Regions from separate parts of the Homo sapiens genome. Here region 1 is linked to region 2. Evidence: fine-mapped expression QTL. A gene starts in region 2. The other region holds a variant in brackets. All regions are shown on one strand. Distances are between the middles of the regions.

What was found.
Region 1: its variant is fine-mapped to the expression of CACNA1E in whole blood (GTEx, PIP above 0.99).

Annotation. Positions count from the first base shown.
Region 1 is chr1:181,502,458-181,507,825 of GRCh38, forward strand. The region is part of intron 1 of CACNA1E (calcium voltage-gated channel subunit alpha1 E); the gene reads left to right. Among named protein-coding and RNA genes, the nearest start is that of CACNA1E, 22 kb to the left of the region's middle. RefSeq lists enhancers at 2,268-2,387, 2,808-3,037. The variant G/A (reference allele first, on the strand shown) is at 2,345.
Region 2 is chr1:181,480,893-181,486,260 of GRCh38, forward strand. It overlaps CACNA1E (calcium voltage-gated channel subunit alpha1 E), which reads left to right and starts at 2,625. Exons shown (of 48, transcript NM_001205293.3): 1 at 2,625-3,118. The coding sequence starts at 2,853. RefSeq lists enhancers at 816-1,348, 1,400-1,529, 2,332-2,856, 2,857-3,380, 4,343-4,472 and silencers at 1,680-1,809, 1,850-1,979.

The DNA.
Region 1 (5,368 bases), 22 kb after region 2:
AAGTCCAGAAGGAGCCCTGGGCCAAGACTCCTTGCACCATAGCTTATCTCTTAACCTGGGCCCTCTCACCTGGGCAGGGTGGAGCGGCTTGCTGAGAGGCATTAGAAAGCCCTCTTGGCTCTCCATCTTTTTACCTCATACTGACTTCTACTTTATGCCATGATCTGGAGAAAATGTGAAACATCCCTCCAGGAAGGGAGCTGGACTGGCCAGGGCTGTTTTTGCTTGCTTGTTCTTTTTTTGTTTTGTTTTGTTTTTTGAGACAGAGTCTCACCCTGTCCCCCAGGCTGGAGTGCAGTGGTATGATCTCGGCTCACCACAACCTCCATCTCCTGGGTTCAAGCTATTCTCCTGCCTCAGCCTCCTAAGTAGCTGGGATTACAGGTGCCCACCACCATGTCTGGCTAATTTTTGTATTAATTGCAGAGACAGTGTTTCACCATGTTGGCCAGGCTGGTCTTGAACTCTTGACCTCAAGTGATTCACTCGCCTCGGCCTCCCAAAGTGCTGGGATTGCAGGCGTGAGCCACTGTGCCTGGCCAGGCCAGGCCTGTTTGAACAGGGCTGGTTTGAATTTTCCTTTTGTGTAGACAGGTTAGGAAGCAGAGATTTCTGTAAGAATGTCTGCTTCTAGGAAGGTGAGGAAGACCATGAGGGATGCAGACACACTGTTGAAGTGATGGTCATAACTATTGCTATGTCTGGGTTTTAGGCACAAGGTCTTATGTCTTCGGCATTACTCGTCCCTCCAGGACAGATGTATCTTTCTCAGTCGGCTCAGACGAGGGTCATATGATCTCACCAGCATGATCTCACTGCATTTCCATCAGGGTCTGTGGGAACTGGAGCCAGACTTCTGTGATGGTTCAACCCCTCCTGTTCTTAGCCCTGGCCTGGGGTGTGATTAATATCCCTTCTAATCACTGGGAGAGATTGCATCAGAGCCATCAGCTTCATAAATCCTCCTCTGGGGACTGGTGTTTGGATGCGCTTTCCATATTCTCAGGAGGTTCTGGGCCAAATGTCTTTGCTCTTTTCCTGGAGGCCCATTACCATAATTTTCTTTTAAATCCTTTATTGGAGTTGGTCTCCTCTGTGTCAGTCCATGGCTACAGCCAGCCAGCCCACTCCTGAGGGCTGGAGGCTGTAACCACCAACAGATGCTTTCCCCAAAGTATTGAGCCACAGTAGATGCTGAAAGATTGAGTTAGTAGGATACTGAAAGTAACTGTATTTGTGCAACACTTTACAGTTTTCAGAGGGAGTTCAGATTCCGGTATCATTTTAGGCTTCAGTCCTTTTGTATTTCTTGTTTGGTTCTGTGGGAATGGATGGTCATAACCCTTCATTGACTCTTGAGTACTGTGTTGGGACAGCTTTTGCAGTCGGAGGCCTGGCTCTGGTTTCCTTTACCAAGCTACATTTTTTCCATTGCATTCCAGGTCTTGAAGAAGATTCTGAAGTTACACGGAAGGCTTGGATAGCTGTATTTCATTCCTGTTCATATGTAAAATGTCTATTTGGTGTCATGCTAATAGGGAATCACAGACTAGTTAAGGCTCTTTCTCTGTTACTGTCTTTGAGTCAAAGTCCACTTATTAGGATGATATTTATGTGCACATGAAGAAGAGGTGGAAAGACATGCATGAAGGTGTCCATGCCATCCTCTGAGGCTGTTACATCTCTTGGATTTAGACATCCAAAAACATGAGACTGAAGGGAGAAAAGGAGACAGGTCTTCCTGTAGGGTCTGGGGTGAGGGGTGGAAATGGGTAAAGGAGGCTGAGGAATGCCTCCCCTCAGACTGTGGACTCTTCTATACCCCCCCAGGAGTTTCCAGGAAGTGCCTGAGTGCCCACCGACTGCTCCCCACAAAAGCATATTCTGCATTAGGCTGAAGTTGGGAGAGTGCACAGCATTCTATCTGCCTGCCTGTCAGAGCATGGCCTTCTTAGTGTTCGGATGTCATAGGCTCTGGGAGGAGACAGCTAAGTACAGAGGTCTTCAGGATGAGCCCCCTGGTGGTGATAGAGATGCATGTTTGCCTGGGGACACCCAATATTTACTGCCTGAGGCCTAAGTCCTTCCCAAGCATGTACCTACAGATCTGTACCTGAGAGGTGATGATGAGGAGGCTTTTCAGGCTCAGGCAGATGAAGAGCTCAGCTCCAGGCCAGGCCCCCAGGGCTCCGGTGACAGCAGAACCAGCATCACCACCCTTGCCCCAGCTTTCTGTGCTTCAAGAAGGAAATGAACAAATGGCAGGTGTGCAGGCCACGTCGTGCTGCTCAAATTAGCCATGTTGCTAAGGAAACAAGTCAACCATTCAAAGGAAGGAGCATTG[G/A]GTAAAGGAGATAAATCAATAAGTGAACCTATTTTTATCATTTCCCTAATGATTGTCTTGAAACTGCTAGACTAGAAAGAGAGTTGGAGCAACACAGGTCCTCATTAATGGGCTCAGAGGGAACGAGGAGTGAAGGGGTGTTTGAGGAGATTGCCAGTAAAGTTTATGAAATGAGGCCTCTAGTGAGCAGTGAGCTGGTACAGGAGGGAAGGCAGGAAGGAAGATGTCTTTTGCAAGTTTCAAAGTGGTTTCATGGTCATTTCCTCATTTTGGCCAGGTCCCTTCATTCTCTTGCATTTAATCCTCTCCGAAGTCTTTTTCTGATTTCTCTGGCCATCGCATTCCTCCTCACTCTCAGGTTGGGATGGGTTTTTGTGTTGATTTGTTCTTTTCAGGATACATATAGCTTTAATTGATTTTGTAGTGATAAATGAACACATGCTCATTTGAACACTCAGAAAATGGTTAGAGGAGTAAAGAAGAAAGTGAAAATAACCCTGCTACCGAGAGAAGACTCATCATCCTTCCAGCAAGACAGAATTTTTTCTTGTTCTCTCCCTTCTCTTTTTTTTTGTTTTTGTTTTTTTTGAGACGGAGTCTTGCTGTGTTGCCCAGGCTGGAATGCAGTCGCACGATCTCAGCTCACTGCAAGCTCTGCCTCCCAGGTTCACGCCATTCTCCTGCCTCAGCCTCCTGAGTAGCTGGGACTACAGGTGCGTGCCACCATGCCTGGCTAACATTTTGTATTTTTTTTAGTAGAGATGGGGTTTCACCGTGTTAGCCAGGATGATCTTGATCTCCTGACCTCGTGATCTGCCCACCTCGGCTTCTGAAAGTGCTGGGATTACAGGCGTGAGCCACCGCACCTGGCCTTCTCTTTTTTTTTTTAAACATGAAAGGGATCTTCCATGTATGCTGGTTTATTTTCTTTTTTAAATAGGTCATGTGTGTCTACAGTGGACAGTATAAAAAGTTCAAATGGGTATACAGTGTGGAGAGTGTGGGTACCTTTTGTAAGGATACCTCTGGCTCTAGTTTCCCTGTATGATTCATTTATCAATTGAATATTAATTTATTAATAAAATAACAGTTACCGGGGCCCCACTGTGTGCCAAGTACAGTGGTGAGTGAGGCAGGCAAGGTCCTGCCCTGGGGCTCCCAGTCCTTACTGCCCCATCATCTCCATTTGTTCAAGATTTCAAAACACAAGCAATCTGGATACCAGGGATAGATATTCTTCCCTAAAATATGCACAGTGTCAGGCACAGAGTGTAATGAGTGTCACTGAATTCTAGAACAGAGAGTCAGAGTCCTGGACAGACTTCCATCTTGTCCCTGATTGTGGTTGCCATGAAGGGTGATGGTCTTTGAGGCCGTGGCGACTCGGAGCTCCCTTTGACCTTTCTAAGTCATGTCTTTGTCCAGTCTGCCAGGTTGAGGGGCACTAGCTTGACTGGTGGGTGGGTGTTATTTGCCGTCTAGGCTCTTCACTTTGGGGATGTAGCAGAGCCATTGCTTTGGGGTGTGAAGTTTTGCTGTCGGGAAGAAATGGGAGTGGTGCCTCGGAGGCAGCCTGCAAGGGTGGGAGTGAGCAGGAGCCATGGCTCAGGCCAGAGTGGGTGAGCAAAGCCCTGTCTTTGTAATGGCTCCTTAGTGAATGCCTCATGTTCATTCTTACCTGCATTGAACATTGACTAAGCTCCTACTATATACCATGGGCTCTGCTAAGCACTGCCAGTAGAGACATGAGCAAAACTCCTGCTTTCAAGATATAGTTTCTTGATTTAAATAGGAGAAGAAATAATACAGTCACACAATTCAAAGAGCTGTGGGGCACGGGGAGAAACTTTCACTGACAAGGTGGCATTTCAGCTTGGTCTTGATGTATGACTGGAAAGGAGAAGAAACGCCATTGCATGTGGTGGCAGAAGCACCTAGATGTAAATGCCTCTTTTTTGTGCTTTCTTCAGAAAGGGAAGTGGAAAAGAGTTTAAAGAACAGGGCTGTAAGGGAGAGTGGCTGGGGCCTAGGCAGACTTGGATGGTCTCTTCTGCTCACCTCCCCTGAGATTTCCCTGCCACTATCCATTCTTTCACCTAGCCCACAGTTACACAGAATCTCCACATTCTCACTGCAGGTTCTTCATTACCGCAGCCATGAATTCATCCTGAGGTCTAGATGCCCTATAAGGCTGAAAGGGACATCCCTCTCAAGGGCATATATATCTGAACAATTTTAAAAATGTAAAGCAAAAAAAAAAATATTTTTAAGCCAGAAGATTGCTGCTGTGAATGGGCCTCACATCAGATAGTGGGAAGAGGATTTGGCTGGAGAGGAAGTGAGAATAGGGTCTTCTTAGAACCTGTGAATTACCAAACTCCCACCTTTAGATTCTAGACTTTAGGGCCTTGGGTAGCACCAGCCATCAAGACCTCATGAATTCTCAGCCACCCAGATACCTGGCCAGTCACTGGGAGTTTGACTCATCAGCACCTGGGCCAAGAGCCATTCCGCTGCCTGGAGCATCTTCCGGTGGTGTTGGCTACACCTTCCTGAGCTAGCCTGTGTCCCCACAAACCTCACATATCTGCCCTTGGACATTCTGGACTAGTTGAGCTTAAAGGTCCTTATAGGGAGCAATATACTTGGGTTAACTGGCTAGGAAAATGCAGGTATGGGTGTGGAAGCAGGGAGCTGGGGCAGTGGAGGAACTGCCATGGTCCAAGGGGATATTGTGAGTGGAGAGTCAGGGGCAGTGGAGGAGCTGCCATGGTCCAAGTGGGTATTGTGAGTGGGGAGGCCTCGGAGGCACATGGCTGCCAGGACCTGTCTTGCCTGCAGGCTCAGCACTGAGAACCCATCTACTTTGAAGCCTGTGCTTATCACTTTCAGGTTTTCAGGGGAAGAAGATTCAACCCCCCAAAACAATCATAGACCCCACATAGACCCATTAGAATGCGAGAGGTCTGCAGCTTGAACGAGAAAGTACTTGTGCCCAGTCCTACCTTCCAGGGCAGGCACTGG
Region 2 (5,368 bases):
GGGACTCAAAGATACTTCTCTAATGATTTGAATGAATTTTGTGCTATGGATTATGGTACTGTCTGAAAGGAGCGACATACACTTAATAATTTCTGAAAGCCCTTTTTCTAACCCTATGTAGTTTACAGGGATACCGAGATAGCCACTTGGGACTAGTTCTAAGTGACTGGCTGATGGGACTTCATGGTTCACAGCACCACCCTCCCTCCGTTTCACGACTGACTAGGTATTCAGACAGAAGAGGACCCTCTGATTAAAGCAGGAGGAAGGACAGAGTAAGGCAGTAATGTGAAATCAAAGTAACAATTACAGCTGACTCACCTTGAATAGTAATTTCACCTGAAATGGGCTCCCCTGAATCCAAAGGTCAAATGCCTTCCCCAAGGGCAGCAGGCTGGACATGTTGAGACCATTCCTTTGGATTTCCAGTAGAGAATTTTCCTACACACACACACACACACACACACACACACACACACTCTCACATACATTCTCACACAACAGACACATGTCAGTGCTCACAGGGCCTTGCCCACAGACAGACACATACCCGTAGAAACACACATGCCATGCACTCAGACATCACCTCACTTCTCAACAGTTAATCTCACTTCACAGGCGTGAAGCCATACTCACCCATGGTTTCCAACCTCTGGGCTTTGGTCAGTGTCTGTTTCCTTCCTCAGCCCCTCCTTTCCTTCTTCCCTTCCATTGTTCGGGTTGGAAGGATTTGGAGAGGCCTATGTGTTGAGCCAAGGCAGGAAAACACAGAAGACGGTGTGCCCCAGCTAGTGTGGACATGGGAGGGGACAGCTGGTCCCTGCCCTCAGTTCAAACCACCAGTCACCTGTGGGGAAGGGCTTGGCGGCTAAACAGGAGCTCTTTCCCTGGGGCTTGGAGTCCACCTTTCCCACCTCTGCAGCTCAGATACCAATTCTATTTTTTTTTTTTTCTACATTAATGGGTTGGGTTTGAGAAAGTCCGTGGAGCTTATTTGGGAGTAAAGGATGGGGGGCGGGAGGATCCTTCTGATTGTTCGCATTTCGAGAAGGGTAGTTTTAGCCCATAACTCACCATGGAGGGCCCTTCCAGGAGACGTCGGGCAGGGCTTTCCTACAGCGGAACCGGGAGGCCGCCCCGTGAGGGCAGAAGCTCCCGCCAGGAGCCAGCACCACCAGCAGAGTGTGGAACCCCCAGAGGTCCTAGCCTCCTCCACGGGGCCTCCCAGGTGCTAAGTGGGGAGATGGGGAGAGGGTTCTGCCCTCTACTTGGAAATGCCTGGCCGTGTTCGTGGAGCCTGGGAGGTGCGGAGGAGCGGCGACGCGGCCATGGCGCTAGGCGCGCAAAGGCCCCGACACCTTACTAGGGCGGCGGCGGGCCCGTGGCACCGCTCCCGGCACCGAACAGGGCACAGCACTGGGGACACCTCTCTGCAGGGACCCAAGACGCGCGTGCGTGTGCGCCCCACGCCAGGCCCTCGCTCTCTTGCGGAGACTCCGCCGCATCGCTGGCTGCACCTGCCTCTCTCTTCTCGGCATTACTTGGGGGAAAGGGGACTCTTCACTGGACCTTTGCAGAGGTGGCTGCTACCCTTTGGCCACATAAATCAAGAAGGCAAGCCAGCCTCACCTTCCAGGAACCTCCAGCCTTCCGGCTGCGTCCCCGCCCCTCCCGCCTGGCCAGCTCCTCCCCCGCTTCTCCCAGCGCTCTTGCGCGCCTCGCTGCGCCTCTGCGCGCCGCTCGCTGTCCTCTGCCTCGCCTCCCCATTCTCCTTCCGCATCTTCTCCAGTGCTCCGCCGAGGGCGCTGCCTGCGGGGAAGAGGGAGACTGAGCCGTTAGTGAGGAAGTTCGGTCTGTGGACAAGTGTGGTGCCAGGCCGCCGCGAGGCTCGGCTGCAACCTGTTCCTCGCCCGCCGGTGCTCGCCGCCCGCCCGCTCGCACTCCCGCCCTCTCGGCGGCGCAGCCGCGGATCGCTGTTGCATGCTGATCCGGGGAGGCGGCGGTGGCGAGCGCTCCGGGCGGATGCTGGCACTCAGGCTTCGCTGCTCTCTGGATGCTGCTCAACTTCTAGCCCAAGCGCAGGAGCTTTGAAGTCATTTGTCCCTTTTCGCTTGGATCGACTTCTTATTTTGAGATTTTGGGCATTGCGGTTTACGCAGGAACCTCAATATCGCTCTCCCCACCTCCCTCCCTCTTTCTCCAACCTTTGGATGCGTCTCTGCTGGCAGATATAAAGACCCAAGTCTTCGCGGTGGAATTTCTTAGATGGACTTGCAGGGGCTGGCGTTATAAAGCATGTCATCGTAACCCCGTCCTCGTCTTTGTTTATTTTTTTTTAAAGTTCTTTTGTTTTCATTTTCCCCTCCTTCCCACCCCTTCCCCCAACCAATAAATCACCAAACTGTTACCTAGCGGGCCGGTGCCTGCCTCTCTCCCTGAACTAGGTGGTGCGTCTGCCAGAAGAGGAGCTATGTTTGAAGAGCAGCCTACTCCACCCCTCTCCTCTCTGGTCCCTGAACACCACCACACACTGGCATTTTGAAAAAAATATTTTCCTCCAGAAACTGGGCACCCCCAAGCCCTACCACCCGCTTTTTTTTTCTTTTTTCTTTTTTTTTTTTTTCCTTCTTGAGGAATGGAGCTTCGCAGAGGTTGCATTTAGATTCAACAGTTCACAGCGGCGGGCTGCTGCTGCTGCCTCTCCGAAGAGCTCGCGGAGCTCCCCAGAGGCGGTGGTCCCCGTGCTTGTCTGGATGCGGCTCTGAGTCTCCGTGTGTCTTTCTGCTTGTTGCTGTGTGCGGGTGTTCGGCCGCGATCACCTTTGTGTGTCTTCTGTCTGTTTAAACCTCAGGATGGCTCGCTTCGGGGAGGCGGTGGTCGCCAGGCCAGGGTCCGGCGATGGAGACTCGGACCAGAGCAGGAACCGGCAAGGAACCCCCGTGCCGGCCTCGGGGCAGGCGGCCGCCTACAAGCAGACGAAAGCACAGAGGGCGCGGACTATGGCTTTGTACAACCCCATTCCCGTCCGGCAGAACTGTTTCACCGTCAACAGATCCCTGTTCATCTTCGGAGAAGATAACATTGTCAGGAAATATGCCAAGAAGCTCATCGATTGGCCATATCCTTTCTTGCCCACCATAACTCCCTCTCCCCCTTTGCATTTCTTCGGGTGAAGGGGGGTACCTAGCATGGAATGTATCCCCCACCCCTTCCTGGTGCCAATTTGCCCCTTTGCTGAAGCACACTCTTCGGTGCATCTAAGGGGCAAGCTTGGTGCCGTGGAGACCCGTTTGGGCACTAGTGTTTTTCAAGGTAAGACTTTTGGTTTTTTATTTTTCCTATGTGGAAATCTTTAGTGTCCCTGGGTGCATCCCTTTCTGGGCTGGGCTTTGTCTGATTCCCAGCCCCCTCCCCACCCCTACTCCCTTCACATGCCGCCCTCTACATAGATTGGGTTGCCCCAATGCTTCCTTTCATAATTAATTCTCATTTTCCTTTCTTTAAGCCAGCCACTCTGCCCGTATCCCCACCAACCAGGAGACACCGCACTGTCTTCCTGTAGGGAAGTCAAGGCTCCATGAGGGGATTTATCAGTTCAGAAGTTCCCAGGGCCAAAACCCTGTGTACAGATAGACAAATGAATAAATAAAACAGGCTTTTGGGTGGGGACTCAGCTAACTCTAGGGACTTAAGTTTAAGTTCCACTGAAAGTGGCATGAGTGAGTGTCTGTCAGGGGAGGTGATCTCTGTTGCCACAGCCCAAGGAGCTCAAACTTGGAGTTCTCCTCTCAGCCAAGAAAGAGCAGCTCATCAGGCCCATCCTGTCCTTGGTCCTTGGTTGGGTACTCTTGCTTCTTAGTGCTTGACCCAGCTGATTGCTCTCCCAGTATCCAGGATCCAGGTGGATCGGCTGGGCCTGAATTCATCCGCTGAGGCCAGAGGTGTGCATGCAGTCTCTCTCTCCCTAGCTCCAAAGGAACTGCTCTCCCCAAAGCACTGGTGGGGGCCATCTCTGATGGTGGTGGTGTCAGGGTGAACAGGCATGGAAGGAGCTTCTTTGCAGGTTTAATCAAGTGCACCAAATGCAGACTGCTGATTAGGCAGCTCACTGCCTTGTTCTTCACTAAGGATTGGACGCCTGGCAAGGCCATTGGGAATTGGGGGTGGTGAGGCAGTGAAGGGGATTAGTAGGAGGCAAGCTAGTGGTCTGGCGTTAAATATGGGGATGGGGTTGGAGACATGGGACTTTGGGAGGGAGATTTGGGAGGGATGCATCTGCAATGGAGGCCCCTTCTTTTCTCCCCTATTCTCCCTCTTTCCCACCCCCACCGTCCAGGTGTGCAGCAGTGAGGCAGCTGGAGCTGCCTTGGGTCTCTAGTATTAGCCAGACACGCGGCTCATTTCCCCCAGGGCCTGGGCATCTCCCTACTCCCCCAACCCCAGTCTCTGGCCTTCCCCTTCTTCTCTAGTTCCCTGCCTCAGCAGCTCGGTGATTGGCTGGCGCGTGGTGCTTCTAGGCAGCACCCCCTCATTAGAAACGAAGGAGCATCTCTAAGCAGATATTCTTCCTGCTGCTGTTCGCATCCTCCCACAGCAACCCCGGCTGGGCTTCTCCCTCTCTCCTCTCTGCATCCCGCTCCCCTGCTCCACTCTCACAGAGTGATCCCAGGCCATCCATTGCCTGAGTTGAACGTATCTAGCTAGGGTGGAGGTTTCGGGCGGGGGAGGGGTCGGGTCCCTGCAGTCACGCCTGCCGGTGCGCTGCACAAAGCGGACAGATCTCATTGTGTTGTGTGCTGCGGCTGCAAATATTCCTCTAGGCAGTCTACGGATTTCCCAGCTGGGCCCTCCTTTCTCACTCGGCTTCTACGGTTCTCTAAATCTTCCCATCCACCAGGTGCTGCCTTGCTGTGCCCCTCTCTTAGGGGCGTGTTTATTCAGACAGGCGCCCTCCCGTTTCTTTGCGGTAGACAAAGCCGCCCAACCGCCCCGCGGGTGGCAAAGTGTGCCAGCAGCCATCGTTGGCACCTCGGACAGCGCCGCTGAAACTCCCGGCGGCCCGGGGCTCCCCAGTTACCCGGGTTCAGCACCTCGGGTACTTCTGGCCGGGCCCAGCCTTGGAGCTGAGAAACCAGGCACGTTTCCTACACCACGTGGTCACCTTTTTTCACGTTTTCTCTTCCGCTGCAAAGACACCGCCTTTCCACCAGGCGTTGCGAGCGCGCAAGGTGCGGCTGTGAGTCTTACTCCTCCCTTTCCTTGTCTTTGGCCAAAAATGGACCAAAGAGAGTCAAACGGGAGACTCTCGAGGGAGTTGATTTCAGCATCATGCTCAGTGCCTTGGCCCCGAGCCCTGTCCCAATGGTCT